Linked DNA regions of Homo sapiens. The protein of the gene in region 1 purifies or fractionates together with the protein of each later gene. This does not show direct contact. Each region holds a gene or a part of one and is shown in the gene's direction. Other genes may lie near its edges.

What was found.
Region 2: the proteins of ODF2 (region 1) and PLOD1 purify together in Homo sapiens (affinity purification with mass spectrometry; 2 studies listed by BioGRID and IntAct, with this or other methods). This does not show direct contact.

The regions. Positions count from the first base shown.
Region 1 is NC_000009.12:128,479,942-128,488,173, forward strand, and holds part of ODF2 (outer dense fiber protein 2), read left to right. Parts: intron 1-271; exon of another isoform or gene 272-875; intron 876-1,638; coding exon 1,639-1,710; intron 1,711-2,874; coding exon 2,875-2,946; intron 2,947-3,996; coding exon 3,997-4,113; intron 4,114-4,759; coding exon 4,760-4,945; intron 4,946-5,423; coding exon 5,424-5,533; intron 5,534-7,901; exon of another isoform or gene 7,902-7,948; coding exon 7,949-8,084; exon of another isoform or gene 8,085-8,232. UniProt on the Homo sapiens protein: Seems to be a major component of sperm tail outer dense fibers (ODF).
Region 2 is NC_000001.11:11,950,989-11,959,220, forward strand, and holds part of PLOD1 (procollagen-lysine,2-oxoglutarate 5-dioxygenase 1 isoform 2 precursor), read left to right. Parts: intron 1-1,634; coding exon 1,635-1,747; intron 1,748-3,841; coding exon 3,842-3,905; intron 3,906-5,928; coding exon 5,929-6,026; intron 6,027-6,853; coding exon 6,854-6,955; intron 6,956-7,527; coding exon 7,528-7,659; intron 7,660-8,232. UniProt on the Homo sapiens protein: Part of a complex composed of PLOD1, P3H3 and P3H4 that catalyzes hydroxylation of lysine residues in collagen alpha chains and is required for normal assembly and cross-linkling of collagen fibrils.

The DNA.
Region 1 (8,232 bases):
AAATGCCACTGAATTTTACGCTTAAAAATGGTTAGCCAGGTGTGGTGGCACACACCTGTGGTCCCAGCTACTGAGGAGGCTGAGGTGGGAGGATCACTTGAGTCCAGGATATCAAGGTTGCAGTGAGCTATGATCCATGATTACAACATGCACTCCAGCTTGGGTGACAGAGCTAGACTGTGTCTCTAAAAGAAATAAAAAGGTTAAAATGACAAGTTTTATGTTACATATATTTTACCACAATTTTTAAAAGTTAATAATGGAATATACCAAAGCCATTTAATTGTATACTTTATTTTTTCTTCTAGCTTTATTGAGGTATATTTGACAAACAGAAGTAGTATACATTTTAAGATGTTCATCGTGATGATTTGATACCCATATACATTGTAAAGTGACCACCTCAATCAAGCTGATTAACACATCCATCACGTCACATGGTTACCTTTTTGTGTGTGTGTGGTGACAACACTTAAGATCTCCTAGCAGATTTCAAGTATATAATACATCATTAATTATAGTCACCATGCTGTACACTTTAAATGGTGTTCAAATTTATATCTCAATAAAGCTGTTTTTAAAAATCAAGTAACAGCTGGGCATGGTGGCTCACGCCTGTAATCCCAGCACTTTGGGAGGCCAAGGCGGGCAGATCACCTGAGGTCAGGAGTTTGAGACCAGCCTGGCTAACATGGTGAAACCCTGTCTCTGCTAAAAATACAAAAATTAGCCGGGCGTGGTGGCAGTTATCTGTAATCCCAGCTACTCGGGAGGCTGAGGCAGGAGAATCGCTTGAACCTGGGAGGCAGAGGTTGCAGTGAGCCGAGATCGTGCCATCGCACTCCAGCCTGGGGGACAAGAGCGAGACTTCCTCTCTAAAAAATAAAAAAAATTAAAAAAAATTAACACATAAATACAATATGATATTATTTTCCTAAAGTTACACATGAATCCCTTTCCCCTTCCCCCAGAGACAAACAGTATTTCTCTTGATGCAGCAAAATGCTGTTTCATTACAGAGAAACAGTATTTCAATACAGTATTCTGTACAGTATTTTCAATACAGAGAAATACAGTATTTCTCTGTAGATGTAGAGAAAAAGGATGGGAAGGATACTCCTCAAACTAATAGCAGTAGGGTAGGGTTTGGAGGTGGGTACAGGAGGAACTGTAGCTTTATTAGCATTCACTATTTTATAGTGAGAATATATTCACATTACTTTTCAAATTAGAACTACAGTTTTTTGGGCCAGGTGTGGTGGCTCACACCTGTAATCCCAGCACTTGGGGAGGCCAAAGCAGGCAGATTGTTTGAACCCAGGAGTTCAAGACCAGCCTGGGCAAACAGGGAGACCCTCCAACTCTACAAATAATAATAATGTTTAAAAAGTTGGGCATGGTAGTGCATGCTTGTTGTTCCAGCTACTTTGGAGGCTGAGATGGGAGGATGGCTTGAGCCCAGAAGGACCAGGCTGCAGTGAGCCATGATTGCACCACTGCACTCCAGCCTGGGCAACAGAGTAAGACTCTAAAAAAAAAAAAAAATACAATTTTTGGAAAAGGTAAAGAATCAATAAAATGTAGACATCTGGGTTTATTGCTTAATGACTTGACTTTTTCCTTTGCCTTTCTTTGAAGGATTCTGAAAGACTAATGGAGCAACAAGGAGCACTGCTGAAACGGCTGGCGGAGGCCGACTCAGAGAAAGCGGTAACTAAGGCTGCCCTTGTCTACTCTAGTGGGTACAGGTGGCAAGAGCGTCGTTCCACTACAAAGTGTAGAGGTGCTTGGATCAAGGCAGGAGGGCTGGAGCATTTCGCTAGGTCTTAGTTTCACGATCTGTAAAATGGGCTGATGTCCTCCTGTCACGCTTGTTCTGATAGGCTTGTCTAGTTAGTTACTTGAGACCTTGAGCCACAAAGCTGGACACCAACATAGAGAGGGTAATGATGATGTTGGATTTGTAAATCATCCGTGTCTGTTAAAGCTGGATTTCCATCAAATTAGTATTATGGATTCAAAGCCATCAAAAAGTACACACCTTTGGACTCAGTAATCCTAATTCTAGGAATCTCTCCCAAAGCAGCATGTTCCAAAGTCTGTTCATGGAACCCTAAGTTCCTCAAGATGTTAATGAGTGCAAGAAACCGAAGGGGAGGTTCCATAGCCAGTTAAATTTGGGAAACCATAGGCTGGCCTGAACATGAAGTTCAACAGCTTCTTTCAAGACTTTTTTGGAGTGTCTGCTGTATTAATGCTTTTGTAAGTCTCCAAGAGAGGGGAGGGAGACGGAGGCCCAGTTTCCCAAGGTGTGGTCTGTGGCCTCTGATGCTTAGTTGAGGAAGGAGTGGAGATGCAGCAAGCTCGGCGATAATGCCTAAATGTGCATTCCCAGCTCAAGAACCCTTGTTAAGTTATGATATACATCAGTAACTTGAACCGTCAAGCAGCTCTTTCAAAAGACACAGAAGATTTAATCACATTATGGTAAACATGAGCTTTTAGGCTATGGAACGAAGTAGGCATATGACTTTTTTTTTTTAACGGTGCTGAGCATATGAGTTTCAATGTGCATTAACTGGTTATCTCTGCATGGGGGGTTACGGGGTTTCTTTGGAGGATTTTTTTGGTGTGTTCTCAATGTTTTCTACAGTTAACATTGCTGTTCTTAAATTGCAAAATAAATACATGTTCATTGTTTTAAAAAAATGTTTTAATGCATATGTTAGGTGCTTCCTACCAGAATCTCTGACATGGGCCAATGTATGTAGGACCTTGGGCCCCAGTGGCCAGGTACTCACAAATCTCTGTCCTCCCTGGGCCGGGCCTCTTTGCCCTTCCCAGGGGCACCTGACAGCCTGTGTTCTCTCCCAGCGCCTGCTGTTACTGCTGCAAGACAAGGACAAGGAGGTGGAAGAGCTCCTTCAGGAAATACAATGTGAGAAGGTAGTGTGCTTTTTTTTTTTTTTTTTTTAGACGGAGTCTCGCTCTGTCGCCAGGCTGGAGTGCAATGGCGCGATCTCAGCTCGCTGCAACCTCTGCCTCCCGGATTTGAGTGATTCTCCTGCCTCAGCCTCCCGAGTAGCTGGGACTACAGGCGTGCGCCACCACGCCCAGCTAATTTTTGTATTTTTAGTAGAGACGGGGTTTCACCATGTTGGCCAGGATGGTCTTGATCTCTTGACCTCGTGATCTGCCTGCCTCGGCCTCCCAAAGTGCTGGATTACAGGCATGAGCCACTGCGCCCAGCCGCAGTTGTGCATTTTTATGAGCCAGTAGAATATAATGGATATGCAGAGAGCTGGGTTCAAATCCTGTCTTTGGGCCGGGTGCAGTAGCTCATGTCTGGCACTTTTTCGAGACCAGCCTAGGCCACTCCCTAGCACTTTGGGAGGCCAATGCAGGAGGACTCATTGAGGCCAGGAGTTTGAGACTGTCCTGGGCAACACAGGGAGACCCCATCTCTACAAAATTAAAATTAAAATTAAAAAATCAGCCAGGTGTGGTGGCATGCACCTGTAGTTCCAGCTACTCTGGATGCTGAGATGGGAGGATCACTTGAGCCTGGGAGACTGAGGCTGCAATGAGTCATGGTCACGCCACTGCACTCCAGCCTTGGCAACAGTGATACCCTGTCTCAAAAAAAAAAAAAAAAATTATTGACCATGCGCGGTGGCTCACGCCTGTAATCCCAGCACTTTGGGAGGCCGAGGCAGGTGGATCACTTGAGGTCAGGAGATCGAGACCAGTCTGGCCAACATGGTGAAACCCTGTCTCTACTAAAAATACAAAAAACTAGCCGGTTTTGATGGCACGTGACTGTAACCCCAGCTACTCAGGAGGCTGAGGCGGGAGAATCGCTGGAGCCCAAGAGGTGGAGGTTGCAGTGAGCTGAGATTGCGCCACTGCACTCCAGCCTGGGAAACGGAGCAAGACTCCGTATGAAAAAAACAAACAAAAAATTGTGCCTCCATCACTTTTTCCGTCTCTCCACAGGCTCAAGCAAAGACAGCCTCTGAGCTTTCTAAATCCATGGAGTCCATGCGTGGGCATTTGCAGGCACAGCTTCGGTCCAAAGAGGCTGAGAACAGTCGCCTGTGCATGCAGATTAAGGTACCTATTGGCCCCACAAGTGGGGAAAGAGGAGGCAAGGGCCTGCCAATTTGATGGTAGCGGCCTGGCCCAGATATCACACTCAGGAAGTGTGCCTCCAAAGGTTTCTGAGGCAGCTGATGACAAAATACTCAGGCCTCAGAGACATTCCAGGACAGTGGCAAGAGCAATGGACAGAGACCCAGGAGGTGTTGGGCATCCTTCCCAACAGTGACGGGGTTGCGTGCCATGCCCCCCAGGCCTATCACTTAATCCCCTAGGCCCTCAGTTCTCCTCATTACCCAAGGGAAAGGGATGGTCTCTTTGTAGCCCAGGGGTCCTCTGAGGTCATACTCTGCTGAGTGACCAAGGAACTATCTCTGACCACAAGGCTGGGAGTTCAGGGAAGGATTCCAGAGCAGTTCTGACCTAATATCAAGACCCCATGGGCTGAGAGATCCAGGGAGGTGTCGTGGGGAGCTGGGAGGGACTGTGTCTCTGGTCCGAGTTAGGGGAGCCTCTCACACAGCTAAGCACTTTTTTCTGTCTTCCTCGTTTCCTCTTTGCTCTTGCCTTTTCCTCCCTTTCTCCTTCACCCTCTGCTTTGCCTTCCCACAACCTCCTTGTCTCTCTTCTCCCTCTCTTTCTCACCCCTTCCCCCTTCCAGAATCTGGAGCGCAGCGGGAATCAGCATAAGGCAGAAGTGGAGGCCATCATGGAGCAGCTGAAGGAGTTGAAGCAGAAGGGAGACCGAGACAAAGAGAGCTTGAAGAAGGCCATCCGAGCCCAGAAGGAGCGAGCCGAGAAGAGCGAGGAGTATGCTGAGCAGCTACACGTGCAACTCGCTGACAAGGTCGCAGGCCCGCGGTGCCCAGCTCCTCACCTGCCCTGAGGAGGGCTGGGTGATGGCAGAGGGGTGGTCAGCCAGATGGGTAGCGGGGAGGGGTGGGTGGATGAGGGATGGTAGTGGTGGAAAGGATAGATGGCTGGGGAGGAGGGAGAGGGAGTTAAGGGGATCAAATGGGTAAAAGCTGGAGGGATGGGTGGCTGGAGATGATTGGAGGCTTTGTAGGAGAGTTCAGCCACATCAGCTTTGTGGGTGAGAATAATGGTTAAGGAAGGATTTACAAACAGGATGCATTTGATTGCTAGAAATCTGGGAGCACTAGCTGGGCTCCCACTGTTGCTTCCAGCGCCCTCTAGAAAGGTGAATTCCAGAATGAGGTTTAGGTTACCAGGGTGAGAAACCACCTAGGATGAGCCCGCTCCCAGCTCCTGGCAGCCTCACCACTGACACTAGGCTAACAGGCCCTTTTGTCCCGTGTTCCCAGGATCTTTATGTCGCTGAAGCTTTATCCACTCTGGAATCCTGGAGGAGCCGCTACAACCAAGTTGTAAAAGAAAAGGGAGACCTTGAGCTGGAAATTATTGTCCTGAATGAGTACGTCTTAGAGTAGGAGAGGGAATGTGGCGCTGTTGAGGGACTTGGGTGTGCAGGTGGGAGGGGCCTAGTGGCTCAGGGAAGGCCACGTGGCTGCTGTTTGTACTCTCCGGGTTGGGGGCTGCACTGGGCTGTGATGTGGGTAGCCCTGAGCTGGGCTTTCTGGTTGGAGCTGGGGTGCAAGCTCTGGCCCTAGTCCTGGGGTCCTACCCTACTGTCAGGCACTGGCTAGGGGCCGGGTCTTTCTGGTCAGAGGTGTGGGTCTGACTTCATCACCTGGGCCTGATCCTGTCCTCAGTCTACACAGCATTTGAAATGGGCACCGTGGTGTCCTCATTCCTATTGGGGAATGGGGCAGATGGTGACCCGAGTGTCTTCTCTCTGTTGTCTGTCCAGGGACAGCAGCTGTTTGCCAGTGCCTGCCAGTCAGTAGGTCAGTGGTATGGCATGGGAGTAGGGGGCAAAAGTGGCCTCAATTTGCAAGTGACTGAGCTGACACCTTTCTTGCCACTGGCGAACTGTGAATAGTGACCATTCCATCATTCTCCTTTTTTCCTTCATTTATTGGAAAAACATATATTGAGCATCTACCATATACCAAGCTGCTGTGTGCTGGCCACCAGGGTTACAGCAGTAAGAAGACAAATGCATTCCCTGCCCTCTACTCTGTAGAGGAGATAGGGCTACAAGAGGCATGGACTCCCTGGACTAAGGATAGGTCATGGGGGAGCTCATTTAATCTCCCAGGTCAGGAAAGTCTCTTACTGTATTCAACTCAACTTAGCAAACATGTTCTGAGAACTCACTATGTGCCAGGCTCTATGCCAGCTGCTGTCCTTAGGGAGTTCTCTGTCTAGTGGGAGAACATAGATACCTAAGACAGAAGCATACATGGTACAGGGGAGGGGTCAGGGACAAGATGTCTTGAAGTCTGAACTGGGTTTTTAAGTGTGAGTAGGAGTTTGCCAGGTAAACTGGAGTTGCCAGCAAACTGATATGTTTGCTTGGGCCTAGTCAGTGTTCAGTGGTGGACTGTAATTGGTCAATACTGAGAGCACATATTGTGCAAAGGGTTTTTGATGGGTCTGTGGTCAAGATAGAGGAGTAAGCACCTGTGAGCCCCAGGGCTCCTCTTGAGGCCACAGTCTCTGCTCTTTGACTGATGATGGCCTTGCTGAGTGACTGAGGCAGCAGCAGGGAGCAGAAGGGACTGGGGGTGGGGCAGGCAGCTGGCTTCTAAGTTGGCGTCTTTCTATTTGTGCCTTTTTCCCACACCACACTCATTGCCGTTCCTGCCTGTGTTAGGTGAGTGTTCATATGTGAATGAGCAATCATGGCACCAGCCCCCTGCTGGGGGTACAAAAGCCCAGGGTGCTCAGGGCCCTGCTGGAGAGGAATGCCTGGGTGATAATCCCTGACCACCAGCCTGGGAGTCCAAGAAGGGATTCCAGAAGCGTCTGTCCTAACACCAAGACCTGATAGGCAGAGAGATTCCAGGAGGTGTCATAGGGAGTTGGGAAGGGATCATGTCTCTGGTCCTTGCCTTCAAAGGGTATCTTGGCCTTATGAGAGGATCAAGATGGGTACACATCCCTCTCTCTCTCTCTCTCTTTTTTTTCTTAATGGAGACAAGGTCTTGCTCCTTCACCCAGGCTATAGTGCAGTGGCACCAGCATAGCTCACTGCAACCTTCAACTGCTGGGCTCAAGCAATCCTCCCACCTTGGCCTCCCAAAGCACTGGGATTACAGGTGTGAGCTGCCACACCCAGCCCACACTTCTCTTAATAAGTCATTGCTTATTGTTGAATTGTAGATGGTTTCTTGGAGGGGGAGGTATGGGAGACACATCTTAACGGACGTCGTTCAGAGGTGGGACAGGCATGGGAGTACCACAGCAGCAATGCCAAGGCAGGGCAGCAGAGTTGCTTCTCAGTGTGGAGATTGGGGAGCAGGCAGGCAGTATATTGAGTGATGAGAACGCTGGGTCCCACACCACACAAAGACCTGGGTTCTTTAGAACCTGTGTAATTGGCCGGGTGCGGTGGCTCACACCTGTAATCCCAGCATTTTGGGAGGCCGAGGCGGGCAGATCACGAGGTCAGGAGATCGAGACCATCCTGGCTAACACGGTGAAACCCCGTCTCTACTAAAAATACAAGAACTTAGCCGGGCGTGGCGGTGGGCGCCTGTAGTCCCAGCTACTCGGGAGGCTGAGGCAGGAGAATGGCATGAACACGGGAGGCGGAGCTTGCAGTGAGCCAAGATCGCGCCACTGCACTCCAGCCTAGGTGACAGAGCGAGACTCCGTCTAAAAAAACAAACAAACAAAACACACACACACACACACACACACACACACAAACAAACCTGTGTAATTGATTCTCTCTGTCTGCTTTCACTTTGTGATCTTCCAGCCGGGTAACAGATCTTGTAAACCAACAACAAACCCTGGAGGAGAAGATGCGGGAAGACCGGGATAGCCTGGTGGAGAGACTACACCGTCAGACTGCTGAGTATTCCGCATTCAAGCTGGAGAATGAGAGGCTGAAGGTTCGCAGTGAGAGCTGGGGACCAGGCAGCTGGATGGGGCCCAGCGAGCTGATGAGGGGTCTTGTCTTACGTGGGCCTGGGGGCATCTTGACTAAGAGGGAGTCAGAAAAGCCTGGATTTGACCAGGCATGGTGGCTTAGGCCTGTAA
Region 2 (8,232 bases), on another chromosome or scaffold:
TCGCCATGTTGGCCAGGTGGGTCTCGAACTCCTGGCCTTAAGTGATCCACCTGCCTCGGCCTCCCAAAGTGCTGGGATTATAGGCATGAGTCACCACACCTGGCCACCTGCCTCCTACTTCCTAAAGATCTCTGGAATCTGCTCTCTCTGGCCCACAGTTCACTGCCACCATTCTCACTGGGCTCCTGGCCGTTGGTAGGAGCCTCCTTACTGCTCTGCCATTCCCTACCCTCATGCCCTTCCAGGCCATTCTCCATCCAGCAGCCAGAGGTGTCTTTAAACGATGCAAATCCAAGGCCAGGCGCGGTGGCTCACGCCTGTAATGTCAGCACTTTGGGAAGCCGAGGTGGGAGGATCACTTGAGGCCAGGAGTTCAAGACCAGCCTGGCCAACATGGCGAAACCCCATCTCTACTAAAAATATAAAAGGTAGCCGGGCGTGGTGGTACACGCCTGTAATCCCAGCTACTTGGGAAGCTGAGGCAGGAGAATCTCTTGAACCCAGGAGGTAGAGGTTGCAGTGAGCTGAGATGGTGCCACTGCACTCAAAAAAATAAATAATTTTTTTAAATAAAAAATAATACTATATTTTTTTATAATGTAAAATATATTATATATATTATATATAATAATTTATATAATATATATAATATATATATTGGTGGCTCATGCCTGTAATCTCAGCACTTTGGGAGGCCGAGGTGGGCGGATCACGAGGTCAGGAGATCGAGACCATCCTGGCTAACACGATGAAACCCCGTCTCCACTAAAAATACAAAAAATTAGCCAGGTGTGGTGGCAGGCGCCTGTAGTCCCAGCTACTCGGGAGGCTGAGGCAGGAGAATGGCATGAACCCGGGAGGCGGAGCTTGCAGTGAGCCGAGATCGTGCCACTGCACTCCAGCCTGGGCGACAGAGCGAGACATTGTCTTAAAAATAAATAAATAAATAAAGATGCAAATTCACACACATCACTTAATGACTTTCCACTGCACGGAGAATAAAATCCACAGGCCTCTTTTCAACCTTAGATGGGGATCTGCCATCTGCCCTCAACAGACACTTTTTTCCACTGGTCCAGAGTAAGCACAGTCCAGATGGCCTTGCCCTGGCCCAGGCCCAGGAGTAGGGATGTCCCATTGCTCTTGTGGTTGCTTGTCACCAGTCTGTACTCTAGCCAGGGGCCCATGTGGGCTTCCCCACTATGCCAGGTCTCAGCCCCCAAGGCACTCTGTGAGCTTGGCCCAGCCTTTCCCTTCTCTGGGCCAGGTTTCCCAGATAACTGTAAAAAGGGACACCAGGCCTGTATCCTCCCAGCCCTGCTCTCCAGGGGCTCCTCGTACAATCCGTTTCTTCACCACCTATATGGTGCCCAGCACTGAACAGTACAGCTTAGTGGGCACCATTGGTCTTATTCTTGGGGTCATTAGGAACTCATTAATAAGTGACATTCACTGGCAGCCCCATTTCCAACCTGCAGCCCCACCTCCTGTCAATTCAGGAGGACTTCTGAGAGGTGACAGGGTTTGTGGGCATATGAGTGGAGGTGGATAAGAGGGAAGGGTGGGAGGAGGCCCCTGACTTAGAGGCTGGAAGCTAAGGGTCCGTCTTGGTGTCCCCACCCACCAACCTTCAGGCTTCATCGGTTATGCCCCCAACCTCAGCAAACTGGTGGCCGAGTGGGAGGGCCAGGACAGCGACAGCGATCAGCTGTTTTACACCAAGATCTTCTTGGACCCGGAGAAGAGGGTAAGAGGCAGTGGGCGGGCCAAGGAGAGGGGGCTGGGGATCCACCGGCCAGGCTGCACGGGAACAGCTCCTCTCAGGCCTGAACCCCTGGGTTGGTGTCTTAGTCTATGCAGGCTGCTCTGACAAACTGCCATAGGCTGGGTGGCTCCCAAACAACGGATGTGGATTTCTCATGGTTCTGGAGGCCGGAAGGGTGAGATCACAGTTGGGTTCTGGTCAGAGCCCTCTAACTGGTACAGACACAGCTGACTTCTCTCTGTGTCCTCAGATGGTGGAAGGGGGTAGGGAGCTCACTGGGGCCTCATTGATAAGGACACTAATCCTATTTTTTTATTTTTGGGATGGAGTCTCACTGTATTGCCCAGGCTAGAGTACAGTGGTGCGATCTCGGCTCACTACAGCCTCTACCTCCCTGGTTCAAGCGATTCTCGAGCCTCAGCGTCTCGAGTAGCGGGGACTACAGGCGTGCACCACCACGTTTGGCTGATTTTTGTATTTTTAGTAGAGACAGGGTTTCACTACGTTCGCCAGGCTGGTCTCGAACTCCTGTCCTCAGGTGATTTACCCGCCTCGGCCTCTCAAAGTGCTGGGATTACAGTCGTGAGCCACCGTGCCCGGCTGTCGGGTCTTAAAGAGGCAGCATTGTTCATTGGTTCAGAATAAGGACTTCAGGGCCAGGCTGCCTGGGTTCCAATCCCAGCTCACCATTTACTAGCTGTGTGACATTGGGCAACTTCTCTGTCCCTTGTTTTTTCCGTTATGAAATGCAATAATGGGCCAGACCCAGTGGCTCATGCCTGTAATCCCAGCACTTTGGAGGCCAAAGCGGGTGGATCACCTGAGGTCAGGAGTTTGAGACCAGCCTGGCCAACATGATGAAACCCTGTCTCTACTAAAAATATAAAGATTAGCCGTGCGTGGTGGTGGGTGCCTGTAATCCCAGCTACTCAGGAGGCTGAGGCAGGAGAATTGCTTGGACCTGGGAGGCGGAGGTTGCAGTGAGCCGAGATTGTGCCATTGCACTGCAGCCTGGGTGACAAGAGCCAGACTCCATCTCAAAAAAAAAAGCAATAATGATAATACTTTCTCACAGAGATGTTGTCAGGATTAAATTGATTAATATATGTAGAATAGTTTATTTATTTATTTGAGACAGGGTCTCACTGTCACCCAGGCTGATGCGCAGTGGCAGAAACATAGCTCACTGCAGCCTCAGCCTCCCGGACTCAAGCGATCCTCCCACCTCAGCCTCCTGAGTAGCTGGGACTATAGGCCTGCGTCACCATGTCTGGCTAATTTTAAGATTTTTTTATAGAGATGAAGTTTTGCTATGTTGCCCAAGCTGGTCTCAAACTCCTGGGCTCAAGTGATCCTTCTGCCTCAGCCTCCCAAAGTGCTGGAATGACAGGAGTGAGCCACCGCACCCGACTCGTGTAGAATATTTGGAGTAGCGGCCAGGTGCGGTGGCTCACACCTGTCATCCCAGCACTTTGGGAGGCGGGGGGCGGGGGCGGATCACCTGAGGTCAGGAGTTCGAGACCAGCCTGCTCAATGTGGTGAAATCCCATCTCTAGCAAAAAAAAAAAAAAAAAAAAAAAAAATTAGCTGGGTATGGTGGCACATGCCCGTAGTCCCAGCTACTCAGGAGTCTGAGGCAGGAGAATCGCTTGAACCCAGGAGGCGGAGGTTGCAGTGAGTCGAGGTCGTGCCATTGCACTCCAGCCTGGGTGACAAGAGCGAAACTCTTTCTCAAAAAAAAGAATATTTGGAGTAGCTATGTGCGTGTAGTGGAGTGCTTGGCAGGTGCTGGTTACTCTTAACGGCCGTCATTGTTGTAGGTGAGCCGGCTGCATTCTTAGATTCCTTCCAGTTCAGAGTCCCTGGTTTTCTGTGAGTAGAGCCACTAGACTGTAGACCCCAGGAGCTTGGCTGCTGGCCTTCTCTGGGCACCTAGCTGCCCTGATGTGACGTGGCAGAGTCGGTGTGGGGAATGAGGGCTGAACTTGGGGACAGATTCCCCACACTGGGTGAGATGTAGCCCCAGCCTCCCCCAGGGCCTGTCCCTGCTGCAGTCTGGTACCTTCTTTCCTGCAGGAGCAGATCAATATCACCCTGGACCACCGCTGCCGTATCTTCCAGAACCTGGATGGAGCCTTGGGTGAGCAGCCCCCACGGGGAGGGGTGGATCCTCAGAGGGGTGATAGGAAGAATTCCAGGCAGGGCCCGAGCCCAGGGAGGAGAAATGGGCTGCTTCTTTCTGGCCATTGTGCTGAGAGGTCACTGGCCTCATCCCCAGGTCCCCAGGGGCCACTTGGATATCCTGGCGCAGAGCCATGTCTCTCTTGGGGGCGGGGGACAAGTGAGCATTCAGCCTGGGAGGAGTTGGGGGATGCGCACAGCAGGTGCTGGACCCCCTGCCCTGCATACCAGGTCCTTACAGGTGGGCCCTCTTTCCCCACTTTCCCGGCCCTCCCACCTTCCAGGTGAAGGAGTCCTGGGCTAGGGGCAGGAACTCAGCTGGTGGGACAGGCAGCTTGGGAAGCAAAAGGCTACTTGACCCTTGATGCCGCAAACATCCCTGGGCCTGGCCTCATGTCTGTGGCTGGTGATGACATTGCTTTGCCGCAGGTCTTCCTGTCTTCCTGAGTGACCTCAGGCAAGTCACACCTCCTCCCCACAGGGGACTCAGTTTTCTTATCTTTACAAAAGGGAAGTGAACCGGATCCACTGATTGCTGATTTTGTGGATAAATGGGCCCTTTTGAGAATCTGATGAAAGCTACGGCTCTGCTCCCAGAGAAACGCAGAAAATGCCCTTTGCCTGTGGTTTCTGGGGGTTAAGAAGCACTGAGTTCAGATCCACGCAGGTCAGGAGCTATCTGTTTTCCTTTTTTTTTCTTCTTTTTTAAGATGGAGTCTTGCTCCATCGCCCAGGCTGGAATGCAGTGGCGAATTCTCGACTCACTGCAACCTCCGCCTCCCAGGTTCAAGTGATTCTCCTGCCTCAGCCTCCCAAGTAGCTGGGATTACAGGCGCACACCACCATGCCCGGCTAATTTTTGTATTTTTTTAGTAGAGATGGGGTTTCACCATGTTGGCCAGGCTGGTCTCGAACTCCTGACCTCAGGTGATCCACCTGCCTTGGCCTCCCAAAGTGCTGAGATTACAGACGTGAGCCATCGTGCCCAGCCCTATTTTAATTTTTAAAATAGAGACAGGGTCTCACTATGTTGCGCAGGCTTGTCTCAAACTCCTGGGCTCAAGTGATCCTCCCACCTTGGCCTCCCAAAGTGCTGGGATTACAGGTGTGCGCCAGCGTGCCCAGCTGAAATACCCATTTTCCTATGTGCAGACTAATAGGGTCAAACATGGGTATTGGGGGCCAGGCACTGTAATCCCAGCACTTTGGGAGGCCAAGGCGGGTGGATCACCAGAGGTCATGAGTTCAAGACCAGCCTGACCAACATGGTGAAACCCCGTCTCTACTAAAAATACAAAAATTAGCTGGGTGTGGTGGCATGTGCCTGTAATCCCAGCTACTCAGGAGGCTGAGGCAGGAAAATCACTTGAACCTGGGAGGCGGAGGTTGCAGTGAGCCGAGATCATGCCACTACACTCCACACTGGGCAATAGAATGAGACTCCATTTCTAAAAAACAAAAAACAAAAACACACACAAAAAACATGAGTATTGGAACCCTGCTGCAGGGGCTCCCTCCACTGGGACAAGATCTGTCCTGATCATGCCCAGGCCTCCCCTGCATGTGGCTCTGGCATTTTCTCAGTGCTGCTCTGCCTACTCAGAGAAGGCGCGTCCCAGACCCTTTCTCTTGGGGCTTCTCTGAGGTGCCTGGAGCTGGGATGTTCCAGGTCTTCGTTCTTCTCCCAGCCCCTGCTTCTGACTGTAAGTAACCACAACAAGTACAGGGGTTGCCGTGGATTCTGTGCTCATGATGGGCCAGGCTTGGTGCCCCACGCTTGTTCAACACAAATCCTCCCCCTCACCCCATGAAGAAGGGATTATTCCTATTTTATAGATGAGGAAACTGAGGCTTAGAGAGAAGTGACTTGCCCGAGGACATAATCTACTCACTGCACAGCTGGGATTTGAGCCCAGCTGGTTGGACCCTGAGCCTGACCTCTGGGTCTGATGCTGGGTGGGACTGTGCTTTCTGACCCCCAGATGAGGTCGTGCTCAAGTTTGAAATGGGCCATGTGAGAGCGAGGAACCTGGCCTATGACACCCTCCCGGTCCTGATCCATGGCAACGGGCCAACCAAGGTAGGGGGTCCCCAGCCCCTGGGGAGTGTGGGAGGGGGCCAGAGCCCTAATTTCATTCTCACTGTGACCCCACAGTGTCTCCCTGGGGCCAGGGCCACCTTCCTGGGGCCTGCTATGAACTCACTGCCTCTGTCCTCACATCTGAGCTCAGCGTGATGCCTTCTTTTCCTGCTGTGGTGGTCAGTGGTACTCTGTCTGTTCTTGCTGGTCACAGGACACGTAGGAGGCTGCCATCCCCTTCCAGGCCTAGGCTGGGCTACCAGAGCCATCTGCACTGTCACCCCAGGGCAGAGTCACTTATTCACTCAGTAAACCTTTATTTCATGTTTGCACCAGACAGTAAGACATAGTCATAAGCAGGACGGATGTCCTGCATTCATGGTGACAGAAGGGACTGGGTGCAGATGCGGCCAGGGACAGAATGGACCTCACTGGTCCCTGGGGAACTGGCTCATAGCTCATAGCATATTTGAGTGTGGTCCTTCACCGCTGGAATGAGGGAGAGGAAGGAGGATGTGATGTGTTTAAAATGCAAATTTGCTGATTTCACCCAGGATCTGTTCAGATGGAATCTCTGAGCGGGGTGGGACCCAGGAATCTGCATTTTACAAGCTCTCGGGAGAAGCACTAGAGTGCCAAGCCCTCCCCTGCCCTCTCTCAGAGCGGCTTGGTGATCTCCTGGGGATGGAGCATTATCTCCAAGACCCTCTTAGGGAGTGGGAGGGGGCTGGATGGTGCTGACCCACTGGGGGCCCAGGGAGATGTGAGTCAGGGCTATGGCAGGTGGGGCTGGCTGGCTTCTCTGTGACCCCACGTCTCCCCGACAGCTGCAGTTGAACTACCTGGGCAACTACATCCCGCGCTTCTGGACCTTCGAAACAGGCTGCACCGTGTGTGACGAAGGCTTGCGCAGCCTCAAGGGCATTGGGGTGAGGCTGCGCCCAGGCCTGTGCCTGAGGGACACGGGGGGCTCAGTCCCCTGAGATGGCGAGATGGGTGATTCTGGAATAGACTCCATTGTCTTTGGTGGAAAGTGAAGGGGTCACCTCCCTGCCTGGGGTTCTATCCCGGTTGCCACCCAAGTGCCTCCTCCTGGAAGCCCTCTCAGATTGCATGTCTCTAGCTTCCCCCGAGATGTCCAGGTTCTGGTTTCTTCTGCCTGGTCCTTCAGGCTCTCCTGCAGCCCCCTCCCCATCCCATGAACCTCATCCTCATTTATGACTCACCTCGAACACCACGCCAGCCACGATCTCCTGACAGCAGGCCCTCAACCGAGTCCTTGTTCCAGGCCTGGGCTCCTGCTGCTCTCTCCCCGGGGCACCCTCCTGCTGCTTCCCTGCCCCCCCGTACCCCCTGACTGGAGTTCCCCGGCCCGGGCACCTTTCTTGGGAAGTCTACATGCTTCTGATTCTGGCTCTGACTCCCTTGGGCCACCCTGGGGTGGAGTGGCAGTGCTGTGACTGGACACTGCTGGACTCTTGTGCCGCCCTCCCTGGTGCAGGATGAAGCTCTGCCCACGGTCCTGGTCGGCGTGTTCATCGAACAGCCCACGCCGTTTGTGTCCCTGTTCTTCCAGCGGCTCCTGCGGCTCCACTACCCCCAGAAACACATGCGACTTTTCATCCACAACCACGTGAGTAACAGGCGCTCTGTGGGGTCGTCATGTGGCTTAGATCCAGGGCCCAGCTTCACAAGGTAGCCCGAGACCTCTGAGGGTCTCACCGAATCTAGCTTATCTGGGCCAAATGACAATCACCAGTGGACTGTGTCCCCAAATCACTGAGTTAACTTTGGAGTCAGACTGGGTGAGTTTGAATCCCAGCGCCGCTATTTTATTGGCTGTGTGACCTTGGGCACATTACTCAACCTCTCTGTGCTTTAGTTTCTCATCTATAAAATAGGCATAAAAGTCGGGCGCGGTGGCTCATGCCTGTAATCCCAGCACTTTGGGAGGCCCAGGTGGGCAGATTATCTGAGGTCGGGAGTTCGAGACTAGCCTGACCAACATGGTGAAACCCTGCCTCTACTAAAAATACAAAATTAAGCTGGGTGTGGTGGCAGATGCCTGTAATCCCAGCTACTCAGGAGGCTGAGGCAGGAGAATCGCTTGAACCTGGGAGGCAGAGGTTGCAGTGAGCCGAGATTGCGCCATTGCACTCCAGCCTGGACAACAAGAGCAAAACTCCGTCTCAAAAAAAATAAAAAT